Linked DNA regions of Homo sapiens: regions 2 and 3 are each linked to region 1. Evidence: fine-mapped expression QTL. A gene starts in region 1. Each other region holds a variant in brackets. All regions are shown on one strand. Distances are between the middles of the regions. Region 1 holds the start of CKAP2-DT (CKAP2 divergent transcript). Region 2 overlaps CNMD (chondromodulin). Region 3 overlaps LINC00345 (long intergenic non-protein coding RNA 345).

What was found. PIP is the estimated chance that this variant, and not a neighbour inherited with it, causes the effect.
Region 2: its variant is fine-mapped to the expression of CKAP2-DT in skeletal muscle (FUSION, PIP 0.95).
Region 3: its variant is fine-mapped to the expression of CKAP2-DT in thyroid (GTEx, PIP 0.92).

What each region holds. Positions count from the first base shown.
Region 1 is chr13:52,452,061-52,458,659 of GRCh38, forward strand. It overlaps CKAP2-DT (CKAP2 divergent transcript), which reads right to left and starts at 3,286. Exons shown (of 1, transcript NR_185890.1): 1 at 2,715-3,286. It overlaps CKAP2 (cytoskeleton associated protein 2), which reads left to right and starts at 3,418. Exons shown (of 9, transcript NM_018204.5): 1 at 3,418-3,566; 2 at 4,463-4,547. The coding sequence starts at 3,497. RefSeq lists enhancers at 2,569-2,748, 3,039-3,118.
Region 2 is chr13:52,732,749-52,739,347 of GRCh38, forward strand. It overlaps CNMD (chondromodulin), which reads right to left. Exons shown (of 7, transcript NM_007015.3): 2 at 6,283-6,423; 3 at 471-611. Among named protein-coding and RNA genes, the nearest start is that of CNMD, 3.8 kb to the right of the region's middle. RefSeq lists an enhancer at 4,642-5,143. The variant GT/G (reference allele first, on the strand shown) is at 2,621.
Region 3 is chr13:52,570,055-52,576,653 of GRCh38, forward strand. The region is part of intron 2 of LINC00345 (long intergenic non-protein coding RNA 345); the gene reads right to left. It also overlaps the pseudogene TPTE2P3. Among named protein-coding and RNA genes, the nearest start is that of LINC00345, 27 kb to the right of the region's middle. RefSeq lists an enhancer at 1-134 and a silencer at 64-123. The variant G/A (reference allele first, on the strand shown) is at 2,922.

The sequences.
Region 1 (6,599 bases):
AGCCTACCACTTATTGGGGTCTTAACTAAGGCTGCGTGCCCACGTGGGCAGAGGGGCACAGGGGCAGAGGGACAGAGGGCAGGCTTGCTCTCTGCCCCCAGGGCTCCACATTTCCCCCAGTCGTGGAGTCAGTGGTCTGTGGCTAGGCATTAAAAGAAAGGAAAGGCTCTTTCCAATGAGTATAAGCCATCTCTCCCCCGAAATGAATTGCTACTTTTACCGTGTTCCAAAATCCTGTGTGTATTTTGGTCTATTTCTAAACAGTGTCTTCTGTATTTCATATCTTTCAATTTCCATCATGACCATATACCCAATAACCAAAAGTTCTTTGAAAACATTTGATTTGCTGTAATATGCTATCAATATATATCACAATTTACCATCATTGCCTGATTTTTGAGCATTTGATTGTTTACCAACTTTTTAGTCTTTTTTAATTGAAAGTAATGTGACCTAAGCATCCTAATCAGATGTGGAACTGTGCAGTTATGCCTGGGCTTTGCAATTATCAACATGTTAGGCAGTGAGGACATTTGCAAGGTATGTTTTCTGCCCTTGAGGGATGTACAGTCTGTAGGACACAAATAGAAGCCTGGCATATGATAGCTGCTGGGATAGACAACCGTATAAGGGTTTCCTGTATCCAGGCTGGAGCAAGGAGAAACGTCATGTGGCTTATATATGGCAATAAATGAATAGACAAAAGGTTTTAATTTTTATGAAGTTCAGTGTATTTTTTTCTTTCATAGTTCATGGAATTTGCCTATTTAAGAAATCTTTTTTCCACAAACCAGATATTGATACTGATTATGAAATCTTTGCCTAACACAAAGTCACTAAGATTTTCTCCTATAATTTCTTCTAGAAGCTTCATAGTTTTGGTTCTTACATTTAGGTCTATGCTTTTTTTTTTTGAGACAGAGTCTCACTCTGCCGCCCAGGCTGGAGTGCAATGGCACAATCTCGGCTCACTGCAACCACTGACTCCTGGGTTCAAGCGATTCTCCTGCCTCAGCCTCCCGAGTAGCTGGGATTACAGGTGCCTGCCACCACGCCTGGCTAACTTTTGTATATTTTGTAGAGACAGGGTTTCACCATGTTGGCAAAGCTGGTCTTGAACTCCTGACCTCAGGTGATCCACCCGCCTTGGCCTCCCAAAGTGCTGGGATTACGGGCATGAGCCACCACGCCCAGCCATCCCCAGGATGTTTTTGCCAGGACCTCCCACCTTCTGAATCAGATGGTTCCTTTCAGTCCCAATCCTACTGGACCTCTGTAGTGCCCAACACTGTGGTCCATTACCTCTTTCTTCAGCTTCTCTCTTCCCCAGACTTTGTGACCCCATTGTGTCCCCATTGTCCTCCTAACTTTCAGATTGTCCTTCCCTGTTCTCTCACAGGCACTTTACCTTCTTCACATGACCACAGGAGGAACGACTAACACTAATTAATCATCAGTACTCCAGGTGCCTGCAGTTTCATGGTCAGCTGTGTTGGCAAAGAACTGTTCTGAAAGGAAATCTTTTTTGTTTTGTTTTTTTTGTTTGTTTTTTGGATCTTTTAGAAAAAGGTCTGCTTTCTCTGCAATAATTGTGTAGCAGTAATATTAAAAAGTGTCTCAAAAATAGACATATCATTGGAGTGGGTGAGTCTGGAGATTAGAGGAGAATTGCCATTTTGAAAAACCTAGCAGTTTGGCAGGTTTTCCTATTCATCTCAGCCTACTGAGATCTCCATGGTATCCTTTGAGTCAATTTCTTTTTTTACCATGCCCACTTATAAAAAATTATTGAGGTTCACATAACATAAAATTAATCATTTTAAAGTGAACAACTCAATGGCATTAATACATTTACAATGTCACCCAACCACTACCTCTAATTCCAAAACATTTCACTTACTTCAAGGTAATGAAACCCTTGTCCATTAAACTGTCTCCCAATTCTCCCCCTACCCTCAGCCTCTGGCAACTACTATTCTGAGTTATTTCACTATGGATGTATCTATTTTAGATCTTTCATATAAATGGAATCATACCATATGTAACTTTTCATATATTACTTCTTTTACTTAGCATAATGTTTTGGAGGTTTTTGAGTCACTTATTAACGCTGTATTTTGTTCTCACTTAATAGAAATCCCTGGTTGCCCCACCTGTCTGATGAAACTTTAGTAAATAATCAACAATAATGACAGACGTATTTAAACAGCAAGTTATATCTTAAGGATGGTGATGGACAATGTTAAACTAAAACTGGGACATTTCATCAAGTAAAAAACTACACAAAATCTCAAACCAAATTCCTCATTAGCAAGACGCTACCATAAGATGTCTGAAGAAAAAAGCAGGCAGAAGTGGGAAAAACTGACCACAGCCGAGGGCCAGCTGTGGAGGCCCTCAGACCTGGGAAGGGTAAACGGGGAAATCACATCCTCCCGTCTGTGTGCCCGGAGCACCTAAAACCTGGCTGAAAGAGTCCAGTCCAGCCTTACTGCAGTGATCAGGCAAGAAATGTAAACCCAGTGCTTGAAACCAGGCAGGTGCAGTCCAGACTCGCCCTCACTTCCCCACTGCCACTCTTAAAACCTTCTAGCCCTGACTTGTTTCGTTCTGTCATGTGGATTGAGTGTTTGTGTGGGTTTTATGAAGGTGGTATTTTTAGATGAGAAAAACGAAGATTATGGCGGCACACTTAACCACACAAACACAAAACGTCTGTAACAAATGCTATTTTATCTTCAAAGGAGAATTATATATAACCTTGAGGAGGGGATGAGGTTTATCTTCATTTTTTTCTGTTTCTCCTCCTCTCCTCCCTTTTTTGCATTTGATAATTGCTTAGAATAAAGGTATGGAAAGTAGATCCCAATTTCAGTTCCCCTTCACACGCTGTGCAAACGTGGACAAACAACCTCTGAACCTGTCACCTCTCAGTGGAAAAAGTGGTGATAACGTCCCACCTCAGAATTGATGCTCAAAATGAAGCAGTATTTGTGAAACGAAAATACACACGCTCGTGGTACGCCAGATCGGTGTTTACGTCCTCGTCAGTGAACGCGTCGATGTTTAATAAGAAGGGCAGCCAATCAACACTTTTCTTGTCTTTTTCTCGTCTGCCTTCCTCCAAGGACTGTGAGGGTCTCAAGATGTGTCCCATCTCGGTTGTTTGTCAACCTAGTCCTGCTATGTCGTGGGGACTGAGCAGGCCGACTCCTCCCCCATCGCACGTCCAGGATGAAGAGCGCTGTTTAGGTTTGAAACCTGCAGACTCAGTCCCAACCGAACTGGGCAGACACCAGACCGGCCCCGGCAACTGCAGTCCAGGCTCCGCCTCCCTACGCCCATTGGCTTATTCAATTCACGCAGGAACCAATGGGCGGAGACGGCAGCCGCGCCGTCTGACGGCTTAGCCGCGGTGCAGACTGCGGCGGCGGTGGTCTGAGGAAGTTCTATCTTGGCGCTAAAGCGGAGACGCATCCCCCGACCCGAGGCTACGATGAGCACACCGGCCGTGCCCCAGGACCTGCAGCTGCCCCCGAGTCAGAGGGCGCAGTCCGCATTCAAAGGTGAAGGCCGCGGTGGCGGTGGCGGTGGCGGTGGCGGTGGCGGTGGCGGGCGCGGGCCCGGCGGTCGGGGCTCGGGGCCGCGCTGGCGCGCTTCACCTCTCCCCCGCTCTGTGAGATCCCTGAACGCGGCGTCGGCCTCGCCCTGCCTCATTCTTGGCCTTGTGGAACGGATCATAAAAACAGGAACCGCTGCGTGGTGTTACTGTGCGGTCGCTGCTGGCTGGGATGGGCCCTCCTAAGAAGGAATCCGTTAGGCGAGGGGAAACGCGCGGGCCTCAGGCCGGGGTCGGTGTCGGAGACCCTGGGTCCGCTTGGGGGCGGGGCTGCACAGGTTCAGGGACCGACTGCGCCTGCGCTGGGTCCTCCGCCTCTTAGGTCCCTAGCGAATTTCTGCAGGGCTGGGGTCGCATCATGTGTTATTTCCAATTTCACAGCTTCTCCTTCGACTTTATGGAAACCGAGGGTTGGTTGGGTCTTCAAAACTAATATTGTTATTCCCTTATTCTACACACGGGAAAGCAGAAGAAAGTAATTCTCATCTAACCCAGTTCTGGTAAATTAGAACTTTCGAGTCTAGTGCCTCACTTCTACCATTTAGTTTCTTAAAGCTTGGCTAGCAGGAGCTGTATGTAGAAAATGATGTTCTCCAGATTTTTCACAGGGAGTAGAGAATGTGATTCTTATGCAGAGGGGTTTTGGGGACCTGTTGTGGTAACAGTCTCTTCTAAGGTGATTTCTCAAAGGCAATATTGAATTGGAGAATTTTCTGTTATATAGATGTGACCTCAGGTGGAACCAGCTTTGGAAGTAAACTCTTCATTTAGTCAACAAGATTTATTTGCCGTTATCGATGTTTTAACTAATATTGACTTGTAGCTCTTACCTTTGTTATCTAGAGCAAAGAAGACAAAAACTCAAGGAACATCTGTTGAGAAGAAAAACGCTTTTTGCATACAAGCAGGAAAATGAGATGTTATCCAGGTAAGGTCAAGTTTATTTCTTTTCACTTCTGTAAAATTGTATCAGATCTGTCCAATGAAAATGTAAAGTAAGCCATATCTGTAATTTTAAATTTTCTAGTAGCCACATTTAGAAAAACTGCTTACATATTATTTTACGTCTTTTTGTGGTACAACGTCTTTAAAATCTGGTGTCTATTTTACAGTTACAGGACATTTCCATTTGGTCTATCCACATTTCAAGCACTCAGTAGCCACATTGGCTAGTGGCTACTTTATTGGATGGTGCAGCATTAGATCATCGTTTTATTAATTTTTTTTTTTTTGAGACAGAGTCTCACTCTGTTGCCAGGTTGGAGTGCAGTAGCGTGATCTTGGCTCACTGCAGCCTCCACCTTCTGGGTTCAAGTGAATCTCCTGCCTCAGCTTCCCAAATACCTGGGACTGACTACAGGCAAGTGCCACCATTCCCTGCTAATTTTTGTATTTTAAACAGAGACCGGGTTTCACTATGTTGGCCGGGCTGGTCTTGGACTCCTGACCTTGAGATCCGCCCACCTCAGCCTCTGAAAGTGCTGTGATTACAAGGATGAGCCACCGCGCCCGGCCTAGATTATCGTTTTCTACGTAAATTAATTCACAGTCTAAGAGAAAAAAACAATTATAAAGCAAAGTATGTGCATAGACTAGATTATCAACTTACTGTTTACACCACACAAAGGTCAGTCTTTCTATTATTTAGCAAAGCTTTTTACTCAGTGTATGGGGGAGTTCATCAGGGAAGGGTTGGGTGGCCCTCCCAAATGCTTAGAGATTACTAGTTGTAGTCTCAACCCTCCACAGAAATATCTTTATTATTTTGTTAAAATATCTTAGATAGTACATAGCTGTAGCAAAAACAAAAACCCATGAAAGTAGATGAAGCAGAAAGGCAAAAGGTCCCCTCACTCTCTAGGGATAACCAGTAATAACATCCTTACAGGCTTAGGCTGGGTGCTGTGGCTTACACCTGTAATCCCAGCACTTTAGGAGGCTGAGGTGGGCAGATCACGAGGTCAGGAGATCAAGACCAGCCTGGCTAACACAGTGAAACCCCGTCTCTACTAAAAATACAAAAAATTAGCCAGGCATGGTGGTGGGTGCTTGTAATCCCAGCTACTGGGGAGGCTGAGGCAGGAGAATCGCTTGAACCTGGGAGATGGAGGTTGCAGTGAGCCGAGATCGTGCCATTGCACTCCAGCCTGGGTGACAGAGCGAGACTCCGTCTCAAAAAAAAAAAAAATTGTCTCAGGTAAACAAAATTGTATATACCACCCACACACATATTCAGAGAGTGGAAATGATAACGCAAATGGGATAAAAATTTTAACAATAGGTGGATCCTGGGTAAAGAGTGTACAGATATTCTTTGACCTGTTTATATTTTTGCAACTTTGTGTAAGTTTGGCATTCTAAAATTTTAAAAATAATTTCTAACTTTATATTAATAAGTTGCTTTAGTTTGGAATAAACAGTTTATCCTTCACAAATAAATCTTTTATTTCTTTGTTTAAGACAAAAAGGTGATCCTAGGTTTTTTATTTGAATAAGTAAATGAATGGTGATAACCGTATACTGAAATAGGAAGCCTGAAGGAGGAGCTGGGGAATTAGGAGTTCTGTTTTGACTATGTTTGAGGTACCAACCAGACATCCAAGCAGATATGCCAAATAATTGTGTGTCTGAAGTTCAGGGGAGGGGTTGGGGCTGGAAGCATAAACTCAGGAATTGATTAGTATACAGATGATATTTACTTAAAAACCTTAGGATGGAATGAAATTACTAGGGAATAAGTAGAGATAATATGGATTCAGACAGTGACTCTCAACCACTTATTTAAATAAAGAATCCAACAAGGTCAGGGGTTTATAATACTCTTAATAGGAAGAAAAGAAAATTCTAAAACGCTTCATGTGGCTTAAGTACTACATTTATTCCTTTCAGAAAACAGATGTTGGCTGGGTGCAGTGGCTCATGCCTGTAATCCCAGCACTTTGGGAGGCTGAGGCGGGTGTATCACTTGAGGTCAAGAGTT
Region 2 (6,599 bases), 280 kb after region 1:
CAGAAATCCGCTTGAAAAGAAATAGCTCCTTCAAGTCTTTCTGCCAAGACTTTTATATAATTCCAAGAAGAACCTGCTCTTTTCAATGCTATGGTATTGTGGTTTTTTTCTTCCAGTTTTAAAAATCAAGTTTTATTTTGATTTCTAGGGACATACCTTTAATTTCCTAGAAGTAAAAAATGTTTTTCAAAACAGCTAAATCCTTATGTACATGAATTCAGTAAAGGTGGTTCTTTTTGTTTTTGGTATTTTACAACTGAAGTGTTGTTTTTTTCTTTTGCAAATATGAAGGACAAAGTCTGGTCCTTTCTCAGAGAGAATATGCTACATGTAGTGGATTAGTGGCACTACAACTGCTATAAAGAACAGTTACCATTTGGATGTGTGTGAGAAACGCTGCTCCTCCTTGAATTAGAAAAGTCCCGCAGGCTTGCCTGGTTAAATTCTCTAAATGCATGAAATATACTTACATTCTGGAAATCATTAACTGCAATTGCTTCTTCAGCTCCACTTCCCATTTTAAAGGTCTCCAAGTTGTTCCCAGCGTCTATTTCCATTGACCCATCTTGTAATTTCCCATTGATACTCATGGTGTAATGGACATTGTAAATCTGAAAGTGAGCATAAGAGTTAGTGATGCTTTCTTTTTTGAGCAATTCAGGGCTTATCTTTAGAAGGGCAGTGTATGAGGTAGTGTCCATATGTTTCAGAGATACATGAGATAGTCCTTAATAATAATACATTTATATATGATGACTTCATTCATACAACAATCAGTTAATGCAATGATTTCCTTAAAAATACCTTAAGAGTAAAGACTTTGGTTGCCTCTGACACCTATTCCAATAGCTCCATAATTTGCAATGCTGGCTGTACTTTAGAAGCATCTGGGTAGACTCTCTGGGTACCATGCCTGGGTTTCACCCTGGACAAATCAAATCAGAAGCTGTGGGAAGGGCGCTTGGGCATAGGTCTTTCTTTTTCTAAAGCTCAATTCTATTATGCATCTGGGTTGAGCACTATTGATGGATAAATGGAAATTGAGGAGGCAGAAGGTTAATTGGGCTCCCAGCTGAACACGTCTGCAGTGGCACCTCAGTTTCACAAGTTGTTTTCATCCTTTGGTCAAGATTAGGCATGCAGTGTCTCAGGTATATGGTATATGGTATTAGGTATATGGAAAGGACTGCAGACAGGACCAGGGTATGCTTGATATAGAGCAGCATGTGTGGAGAGGAAGGCCAATGTGCATGTTTGTTTCAGCTCAAAATGGTAGTACTCCCTGAACGATTCTATGGGGCAGGCCCATGGTGCTGTAGGGCATTTTGTTATGAGATGTGTGGGGAGTGTGGAAGAGGGGAAGGGACCTGGCACTGCAGAAGAGCATCGGTCCAGTAATCAGGAAAACAGGTGGCCACACCACTCATCTCTGGATCTTGTGAGTTGCCACGAGTGTATAATGAAGTTGGACCTCATAGGTGGCTTTCATCTATGTCCTTAGAACTGTTGGGATCTCCCGGGCATGGCCTAGAGGTGAGGATGGCACTGTGGCACTCTGTTCTCTCCTGTCCATCCATAGTCTAACCAGAGTGGCTCTGCTTTTTCTGTCTTATGTGTTGCATTTCTGAGTAACATTTTGTTAGAAAGACAAATTTCAATACTTAAAACATTTCTTTTTTAAAGTTTGCCACTAATTAGCTGACCTAAAGGGCTCAGACACCTGATTACTGCACTGGTTTCAAAATAACTCAGACGCTGCTCCTGCTCAGTGTGCTGCTGTCCTGGTAGACCTTTCTGTGTGGCAGAGCTAGGAGGTGGGTTTCTTTTTTTTTTGGATTTAGATGCATAGGTATATCTATATATCTTACATATGATATATTACATATCATGTATAAATTATAGATTATATATACACATATATATAAATCTTTAAAGTGGAGGAATGAGAACTGATGAAAAACTGTTGCTACTTAATATCAGGTCAGCCAGTCAAAACTGCAAATAGCTCAGATCCAATTCAAGTCTGATTTTTCTTCCTCATTATGAAGAGTGACTGCTACATGCACAAACACTGGAAAAAGGATCTGTTATTGTTGGATCCATTTCTTGAAGAAAACTCATTATTACAAGACCCACAGTGCACTATTTTATTATCAGCAGAGATACAGAAATGGCTTTGCTATCCAGCACCCTTTTAGGAACAGCATTCATTCAGCAGGACAGAAAATACCAGTGTCCTTTTTCAGCTCAACCATCCCTCATTGCCCCTCCTTCCCTGTCTCTTTCTGAAGAACTTAGATGTCTGCAATTTACTGTCTCCTAGGCTTCCCTGATCACAAGAACCACTCCTGGGGGTTCTGATTTAGTGGAGCTAGAGCACAGCCCACCAGTCTCTTTTCCCCTTTCCCCTCAGGTGGCCCTTATGATCAGCCAGGTTTGGGAAACCTGTTTTCTTTGGCTGAGACGGGACTCCTGCAGGTGAAGTTTGGAAAGAAGGCTCTGTTCTGTCCGGTGCTCTCTGAGCAGCCAGTGTTCATATGGGTCAGTGATGACTGTCAGAAGGAGCCTGGCAGGAAACACCCATGTGAGTGTCTTCCACTCATATGACAAGAGGTTCTGT[GT/G]TTTTTTTTAAGAACATTGCACATAAGCTTTTACTAGTAAAGCAATGCAACATTTAAGAACATAACCATTTCTAAATTCTTAGCAGTTCTTAAGGAGATAAGGTTGTCACACTAGAAGAGTGGCCTGTGGTTTGAATTTCACATTCCTCCACCACTACCCCTGGCTGTCTTCTCCCCAGAAAGCCTCCCTAACTAGGTGCAGGGATAGCCAATCTTTTGGCTTCCCTGGGCCACAATGGAAGAAGAATTGTCTTGGACCACACATAAAATACACTAACACTAACGATAGCTGATGAATTTTTAAAAAAAATCTAAAAAAAAAAAAAAATCTCATAATGTTTTAAGAAAGTTTACGAATTTGTGTTGGGTTGTATTCAAAACCGCCCTGGGCCGCATGCAGGACCACAGATTGGACAAGCTTGACGTAGGGCATCTTGGTTGTGCAGCTGCGGCCCACCTTTTTTTTTTTTTTTTTTTTGAGATGGAGTCTTGCTCTGTCACCCAAGCTGGGGTGCAGTGGCACAATCTCGACTCACTGCAACCTCCGCCTCCCAGGTTCAAGCCATTCTCCTGCCTCAGCCTCCCAGGGAGCTGGGACTACAGGCATGCGCCACCACGCCCAGCTAATTTTTTTTTTTTTTTGAGACGGAGTCTTGCTCTGTCGCCCAGGCTGGAGTGCAGTGGCACAATCTCCACTCACTGCAAGCTCCGCCTCCTGGGTTCACACCATTCTCCTGCCTCAGCCTCCCAGGTAGCTGGGACTGCAGGTGCCCGCCACCAGGCCCAGCTAATTTTTTTGTATTTTTAGTAGAGACAGGGTTTCACTGTGTTAGCCAGGATGGTCTCCATCTCCTGACCTCGTGAGCCGCCCGCCTCGGCCTCCCGAAGTGCTGGGATTACAGGCGTGAGCCACCGCGCCCGGCCTTTATTTGCATTTTTAGTAGAGATGGGATTTCACCATGCTGGCCAGGCTGGTCTTGAACTCCTGACCTCAAGTGATCCTCCTGCCTTGGCCTCCCAAAGTGCTGGGATTACAGACGTGAGCCACCACGCCTGGCCTGCAGCCCACCTTTTATGTGCACTGCACCATCTGCATGGGGACAGCAGTGAAGCTGTCCCCCTCCTGAAGCTACTAGGGGAGGATGTGGGGGGAGGAGGCAGTCCAGTTTCTAACATACTAGACTCTGAGCTGGGGACGAGGCTGGGCTGTTGGAGCAGCAATTACCTTATCTGCTCTAAGTCCGTGGAGCTGTGGACACCCAAGGCTATTTTTATCCAAACAAGATGAAATTTATTATTTGCCAAAATTCTGCTCAATATGGTGCCTTTTACAGCCAAGGATATTTGCTAATGAGTTTTTAATAAGGCCTATGTTCTATAAGATTAATTACATAATGTTTGGGAAAATGTCTAGAAAAATTAGTCTGAGAGGAAAGGCCCCAAGCAATGATCTCCTTCCCTCATCTCACAGGGTGGGGTTGTCAGTTATCTCATATTGGTGGAAATTTCCCATATTTCAATGCCTTGTTCCATTTACAATAATGTGGATGAAAAATGGCCTCAATATTGGAGCCCAGTTCAGTTGTCCCCTGATTATTATTACTCCAGTGCTTCATAGTCCTCCAGCTAAATTTCAGTAAACCTGTCCTAAGGGGATTTACCCACATGAAAAGGATAGGAGGTGAATTACAGCTGGTTCTCCTCTATAAACCAATATAGAGGAGCCGAGGCACAGATAATCCCCAAAGAGTGGATAATCCATTTGGTTTGACAAGTCTTTCTGTTTGACAAAGACTTACCTTTTTTGATTACGTTTTGTCTGAGCTATTTAGATTTGTATTCAGGCAAAGCAGACCTGTGCATGTGCTATGCCTAGGTGGTGCAAAAATTACTCTATTTAGTATTTTGTGATTTGTTTTTCATACTTAAGTCATATGGATCAGGGAGAAAAAAACTATCATGATTTTCTTCATTCTCCTGTCTGTATAGGATATAGCAATAATTTTGATTGTTGACAATAAAATGTGATTCACTATTCCTCTGAATTCTTAGCATTTAATACTGCTCTCCTGAACCAGACAACCAACCATCTTGCAGTAAAGTAAAATATATGAAAAAAGGGAGCTGTGCTTATTCAGTATGATTGTTTAATCTCTCTTTTTAGAAGCCTGTCAGTTAGTGATGTTTACCTTGAATAATTAAATGACAAATGGTATTCATTTTAAAATATATCATGTCCAGAATCTTTACCAAAAAAAAGCATAGCTATTGTTATCCCCCATTGACCTATACCATTGAGGCTTTGTTATTTAAAAGATAGCATTTACATTCTAAAACCACAGAATTTCCCAAAGAGATGACAATCTAAACCCTGCTATTAATGGAGATGTAGATATTGAAATCATTCTCTTATTCACATTTGCTGTTTCAAACATGAGCATCTGGCCCAGCTTCTATATTTAAAATACAAATACATTAAGGCACTTTTCAAATACCCACAAAATACAGTGCAATTCTGATCTTACAAATCGATGCTTGTAAATTTGATATAGTCTCTAAAACAGACTCGGTGCTAAATGGCATGCTTATCTACATTAGACATTTGAGTTAAAAATACAAATTATGCAGTGACTGCAGAAGACGTGATGTGTAAAATGGTTGAATTGCTTTCAGCACCATTTTCTGTAAGTACTGGAATTCGTTCATGCTTTGCATTTCATGGTAGGAGAGAGGAAAAAACAGCAATCACCAATCCTCTGAGGATAGTGATTATGAAAGAGCCCTTTGTGTGTGCCCTGGAGATGGAATTCTTTTCCATTAGTTGAAATAAGCTTATACCAGACCTGGCAGTGGTCATCAAGATAAAATGCCCCCTTTTACATAGGTGAACACTTTCAGAGTATTTAGAGAACACACTGGAGCTCTGCCCAGTCAACTTAGAAACAGTCTTTATACTCCTCGAGAGCCGTGGAGCTTTAAAATAAATAGTTGCATACAAAGAAAGTAGGACAGCAGTTAGTAAAACACCTACTATTAAACCACATGTGATGACTAGGCCAGAATTAATTGTTAAAGAGATTTTCCACCTTTAAGGAAGTTAGACGTTTTGTTTGTTTGTTTGTTTTTTGTTTTTGTTTTCCAGAGAGAGAAGGGAATGTTCATGGCTAGGTCACAAAAAAACCTTCTGAAAGGCAAAAATTCCTTCCCAATGGGTCTGAATATGGGTCTGAATATTCCTCCACTATCTTTGTCCTGGATTTTAAACCCACAGCCTTTCTTAGCAGGGACAGGCCTTAGAGATCGTCCAGTTCCATTTTTTCCCTTCAGGACGAGTACACTGAGGCCAAAAGGTGACGTGCCTTCCCCACGGTCGCGCCACTGCTTAGTGGGAGATGAGCCGAGAACGGCCTTTCTCGGACCGTCCACTACATTCTCCCCTACTCTACGCTTCAATCTTCTCCCGTGAAACCTTCACTTGCTTTTCTACAACGTTGACCTAAGGCGGAAAGCCGCGTGCCAGAGTGGGATGGGAGAGGGGAGCTCACGCTGGGCCCGAGGGGCCCGCCGGCAGCCGCGCGCCCCTCGCCGGCCCGCGCTCGGGCTCCCCCTAGGGGCACCATGGGCGACACGGGGGTCCCCGCGCGCCGCCCTCTGGACTTACGTGACTGTCGCTCCCCTTCCAGAAGTAGAAGGCCCCGATGGCCCCAAAGAGCAGCAGCACAGCTCCCGAAATGAGGACCACGGCTCCCACCTTGAGCAGCCGCGCGGGGCTGGAGGGCTTCACCGTCAGCGTAGCGTACGCCTGCGGGCCGGGGCGGGAGAGGGACCGTCGCGTTTGTGCCGCCAGCACCTGCGGCCCCCAGCGCACCCGGGCCCCACGCGGTAGCCCCCAGGGAGTGGGGAGTCGGGCGGGAAACAGCTCGCCCGGGCTCCTACGGGTGCCCCTTTCGCCGCGCTCCCTCCCGAGGGTCCTTTGCA
Region 3 (6,599 bases), 120 kb after region 1:
AGGTTTTATATTGGGTATGTGGTTTGACCTACAAGCCAGTAGATGGCGGCGATGGGTAAGAGCTGGCTGTGGCCAGTGGTGCTGGCTATATACTTGCTGTTTGTTTATTGGGAAGAGCTCTCTGTTGCCTTAGGCAATGAGCTGATTCCTGGAGTACACATTAATCTGAGCTCCCTCCTAAACCCTAGGGGAACGGGAGTTAGGTGGGGGTGTGGGAGGAAGATGGGTGGAGCCAGATGGGGAAGGTTCCCCAGTGTTGTCCTGCTCTCAGTCCAGGTTTGGGAAAATGCCTGCAGCTTTTCCTTGTGTCCTTTCCTCACAAAGTCTCCAAGTCTCTCGTTAAATTAGCTCCAGGACTTGGGAGAAACAGTGCCCCTCCTCGGTCCGGGTTGCTTGGATCCCCAGTGGAAAGGTAAGACAGAGGGATGCTGTCTGCCTCTCTCACATACTGAGGCTTCACTCGCTTTTATCAGTCGAATGTTGTCACAAGAGCTGTTTGCCTGCGTTGTCCTCCCAAGGATCTGGGGTGTCCTTCATAATTCCAGGGAGTTGTCGTTTTCTTTCTTGAATTAAAGTTCACAGAGTTGATCTTTATGTACTATCTTGCTATTTCCAAATGGCTGAGGCATGCTAAAAGCCTGTAATCTGCCGTCTTGGAAAAAAATCCTTGCATTCTTAAGAGAAATGGCACTTGGTATTGATACGTGGTATTTCTACACTGCTGAATTCACTTTGAAAAAATATATATATTTTTATATCTACATTTATATGTCAGACTGGTATAAAGTAATCGTCTACTGTATTTATGCAGTTTTGGAACCAGCTATTTTAGTGTTACTAAATGAGTTGGGAATTTTTCTTTCTTACTGTTACCCAAAGGAATTTATATAAGACATGAATTATTGCTTTCGAATAGATTTAGTAAAAACCTCATCTTGTTCTTTCGTGGAGAGGTAGTTGAGAAATATTTTTACCGTAAATGTAATTTATTTTCCACCTGTGGGGCAGAGGTTGCAGTGAGCTGAGATCGTGCCAGTGCACTGCAGCCTGGGTGACACAGCGAGACTGTCCCAAAAAAAAAGAAAGAAAATCAACTTAAAATGAACTCCTGGAATATTTCTGAGTGTATTTTTATACCAAGCATGTTCCTTGAACTAATTTTTCTTTTCTTTTCTAGGAAGAACCGGAACTATGGTTTGTGCCTGCCTGATTGCCAGTGAAATATTTTTAACTGCAGAGGTATGAAAGATGTTACTACAAACTTTGTCTTAGGATGACTGAGTTTGCTAGTTCTGAAACATCACTGGTAGGATGTTAAGATGATTATTTTAGTCATGGTGCTTAGTGAAATTGTAATTGGAGAAGCGGTTGTTAAAAAGTCTGTTTTTGATACTTCCTTGTTTAACATGCACTGGTTAGTAGCTGGCTTAAGAATCTCTTTGGGCCAGGACTAGAGTGAGGTCAATGAGGCGCAGAATTTAAGAGAATGCTAAAAATTGCAATAATTAAAATAAATGATTTTTCATGCAATATTTAAAAAATAAAAATTAATGCAAAAAAACCATGAGGTATACAATATTAACATTTTAAATAATGACAAGACCTGATGGGGCAGGATTAAGGTGAGGGGAGTAAAGCCATGTTACACAGATACAAAAAACATTCAGTAATCGCAATGGTTCCCTCACCTCACCTGGCCCTGCTGTTCTTCCTTCCTCATGAGAATAGTATCAAGCTTAATTAGATAAATTCTCCAAAGGGCCTTGGCCATCCTCACACCTCTTAGGTAGATAAAAGGCAACATTTCACAACTCAAAGCCTCTCCTGCATGTAAATACCTCTGCTTAGTCAACACATGTGGAGTCTGTGGCCTCTAGAAATTTCTGATAAGACAAGGTGGGATGTTTCCACCTACAGCAGTGTTCTCAGTCATTTTTCTTTGCCATTTTCTTGCTGAGATGCTACCATTTCCAGCAGCTCCGCTTGAGTTGTTTGGCCTACAGTCTAGGGAAGAAGTGGTGGTTCTGCACAATGCCCAGCACTCTAATTCCACCACCTTTGGTTTTTCTAATTTGAGACACACAGATTTTGAAAATGGATGTTCTAGGATGGTGTTTTTCAAGCTATGGATCATGATGTATCAGTGAGTTGTAAAATAAAGTTACTGGGTTGTGACTAACATCTCTTAAAAATAAAATGGAATCGGCCAGGTGCGGTGGCTGATGCCTGTAATCCCAGCACTTCAGGAGGCTGAGGCGGATGGATCACCTGAGGTCAGGAGTTTGAGACCAGCCTGACCAACATGGAGAAACCCTGTCTCTACTAAAAATACAAAATTAGCTGGGCATTGTGGTGCATGCCTGTAATCCCAGCTACTTGAGAGGCTGAGGCAGAAGAATCGCTTGAACCCAGGAGGTGGAGGTTGTGGTGAGCTGAGACCGGGCCATAGCACTCCAGCCTGGGCAGTAAGAGTGAAACTCCGTCTCAAAAAAAAAAAACAAAAAAAAACTAAAGCTAAAACTAAATAAAATGGAATAGAGCAGAATAGAAAATCTGAAAAGGTTTAAGTATTGGTGTGTGTGTGTGTGTACTTCTCCGAGGTTTATTAATGTGGATTGCAACTTAAAAAATGAAAAGTTTGAAAGCCACTGATACAGAGCCCTAGACTGAAAACCAGAGACTTGTATTTCAGGCCTGTGCTGCTTCTAACTGGCTGCAGCATCTCCATGGCAGATTGTGTAGTTTTCTTTTGGTCTCAGTCTTCTCATTTGTAAGATGGAAAGAAGGGTTGGACCAGATGATTTCTAAGGTCTTTCCAGCTCTAAACTTTTATGTCTTTACGAAACCTTGAATGAGAGAAGTCTTTGATGTGACTTTGTTAATTTTGGTAATTTGGGTAGCCTTTGCCAAAAGACCACTGC[G/A]GCTAGGCGCGGTGGCTCATGCTTGTAATCTCAGCACTTTGGGAGGCTAAGGCAGGCGGATCTCTTGAGTCAGGAGTTCGAGACCAGCCTGGCCAACATGGCAAAGCCCCCATCTCTACTAAAAATACAAAAAATTAGCCAGGTGTGGTGGTACACGCCTGTAGTCTCAGCTACTCAGGATGCTGAGGCAAGATAATCGCTTGAACTCGCGAGGCAGAGGTTGCAGTGAGGTGAGATTCTGCCACTGCACTCCAGTGTGCGTGACAGAGCGAGACTCCATAAAAAAAAAAAAAATCACTGACTTTAGGAAAGAAGGTGGTTTTAGAAAGACTAAGGTACCTAATATAGAAAAGGAAAGAGTGCAGATGAACCATGGTTCCTTTTTTGTAGGAAAGATTGTACTATTTTGGAGAACGGCGAACAGATAAAACCAATGGCACTAAATATCAGGGAGTAGAAACTCCTTCTCAGGTAAGTTTTCGTTTTAAGAAAGGGAGCTTTTGTAGGGGAGTGGGTTAAGATTGCCATCTGTTATTTGGTTTCATTTTAGACTCTTCTCCTTTGGTGATCAGTCAGCAGCATTAGGGCACCCTGCGACAGGCCTTGGTCCCTCCCTGATGCTAAGGGTCATGCTTCAGGTGCCACCCACACGTTGGGGGGTCTGGCTTCTCCTCAGAGCATCCTGCTTTCTATTCTATACTGGTTATTGTTTACGGAGCTCAGGAGTTGATTATTTTCCCAAAGCAGGAAAGTCCAATACCTAAGGCTCCAGGACCCTGAAGTTTATCTAAAATCACCAGCCTTTGATTTCAATGTAAAAAAGATCTAAGTCTTTCACAGATCCTTATTAGGGCAATTCAACCCTTGCAGAACATCACAAAGACTGTTTTTGGGTGACTCCCGTGTGTGTGTGTGTGTGTGTGTGTGTGTGTGTGTGTGTGTGTGTGGTGGGGGAGGTGTATTTTAAAAGAGAAAGAAAAGGGGAAATAAACTTTTCAAAAACCCTTTTATATACCAGACAGTACTGCACTTTTACATATCTCATTGAAAACCCATAACACCTATATGAAACATATGCTGTTACTCTGTTTTTTCTTTTAAAAATAATTTCGTTATGGAAAACTTTAATCATATACAAAAGTCCAGAGAATCATACAATATATCTCCATGTAGTCATCACTTCGCTGCAACAATCATTTCAGCCTGCAACTGGCCACGTTTCATCCATACTTTTCCCACTCCACTCACACCCCCAACCCCACTCTCCACTCTTGCTTTCCCCAAACCTGGATTATTTGGAAGGAAATTTCAGTCATCAGATCATTTTATCCCACAAGTATTTTAGTATGACATCTAAGTACTCTTAAAACAACAACAAAAAACCCTTAATAACTTTTATCATATCTGAAATATTACACCTTAAAAATCCTTAATATCAAATTTCTAGTCCATGTTTGTTTCCAAAATTGTCTTAAAATCTTTGAAAATTTAGTTTGTTTCAGTCAGAATTCAAACAACATCCACACATTTCATTTGGTCGCTATGTCTCCTAAGTCTCTTTTAGTTCATAGATTTCTTGCCATTTTTTATTGCTTGTAATTTGTTTACTGCAGAAACCAGAATGTTTATCGTATAGCATTTACAACATTCTAGACTTTGCTGAACCATTCTAAGAGTTTTACATTCACTATCTCATTTAATATTCTCAGTAACTCTATGAGTAGGCACTACTATGATTCTCATCTTATAAATTAGAAAATTGAGGTTCAGAGAAATTAACTTTTGAACCAAGGACTGAAATCTAGATGTCAGACTCTGAAGCCCATGCTGTGCACAGCTTCTCATTTATATTGCCTTTTCTATATTGCCCCTCAAACCGAAGTGAGAGTGGGTTGGGAATTCTCAAATAGATTTGGATGTGGCTGTAAATGAGTTTTTCTTTAGGTGGTGGGAACTGAATAAGTACTCTTGGCCCTGTTATAAGAACACTAACTACTGTCCCCGTTTAGTTTGGGCAAAAGAACTCAGCCTTATCCACTGATACTTTTCTCCCACACCCAAGCCAAAAACAAAACCAGACAAAGAACAGTCATAGACCCTAAGCGAAAAGGAATGTGTGGATTTACTGAAGTGCAGCCCTACTCATGCCATTTCCATGCTCAAAATCCAGAGTATGTCCCCACTGCCAGTAGCAATAAACTAAATGTTTCAACCTGGCACTCAAGATCCACAGTTTGACTTTTCCAACCTTTTCTTCCACTATGTGCATGCACACATCCCACACTCTAACACATTTAGACTGTGTGCTGTTTCCCAGCCCATGGACACTTGATTCCCTCGTGCCATTTCTCATGCCCCTTTTCCTAGAGTCCCTTTCCCTTCCCAGCCTGAAGTAGTCTCTTGCTTTTTCAGTTCCTAAAGCCCTTTGTGTTTCTCTTAGGGATGATATCACTTTGCATTGTTCTCTAGCTATTTGAAGTGGTGACTTCTGTTTCCCCTTTAAAGGCAAGGCCCATGGCTTACCCATCTTTCCACCCTTTCCTCATAATATCTTCTTTGTTTGTAGTGAGTACCTCCTATGGGTTGGTTGTATGAATTTCTACTACCAGTCCATGTTGTTTTAAGTTGTAGTAGAAAGAAGCATGGGAGCAAAAGCAGCTTGAGGGCCCTGGCAGGTTACAGCCTTTAGGGGAAGGTGGAGAATCTGGTGGCAGGAGCCAAGGAGATGTTAGATAGAGCTCCTTCAGCAACTCACCCCACACGTCTCCCCATCCCCATCTCTTCTGTAGTCATGCATAGTTTCCCGAACTTTAGTCCAGAACTAGCACACCAAAGGCTGCAACTGAATCTCTTCTGATTGACTGAGAAGGCAACACAGGGTCTCAGCTGCACATTTGAGAGATGTGTTGGCAAGACCTCAGGACAGAGTGCCCTCTGTGTCTGGTGGTGATTCTCGGATACCATCACATTCTGATCCTGCATTGTGGGCCATTCTACTGACTACATCTACTCCTAAGTTAAGAACTTTCATGAGCCTTCCTCATGACTGGCCCTTTCTAAAGGAAAGTATGGCAGTTTGTTACTTCTATGAACATTTCTCAATGGGTAAGATAGAGTCCATGAACTTATGAGTACTTCTTCTTTTTTTTTTTTTTGGAGACAGAATCTGTCTGTCACCCAGACTGGAGTGCAGTGGTGCAGTCTCAGCTCACTGCAACCTCGACCTCCTGGGTTCAAGCAATTCTCCTGCCTCAGACTCCCAAGTAGCTGGGATTACAGGTGCCCACCACCACGCATGGCTAATTTTTGTAGCTTTAGTAGAGACGGGGTTTCACCCTGTTGGCCAGGCTGGTCTCGAACCCCTGACCTCAAGTGATCTGCCCACCTCGGCCTCCCAAAGTGCTGAGATTACAGGTGTGAGCCACCAGCGCAGCCAACTTTTGAGTTCTGAACCAGTTGATTCAGTACCAGAGCTCTTCAACTCCTTGAAGATAGATTCAAGGAGAGCCACTGTGAACAGCTTGCCCTAGGAAAAGGACAAGGCTAAGGGAATTCCGGGGCTTCCTTGTGAAAACAGAATTGGGGAAATGGAAAGTGAAGAAATCCTAGCTGTCAGGAACAAGAGAAGAATGACAGGAAACCTGCTACTGAGATATGGAGGTATTCCTCTTGAGTTTT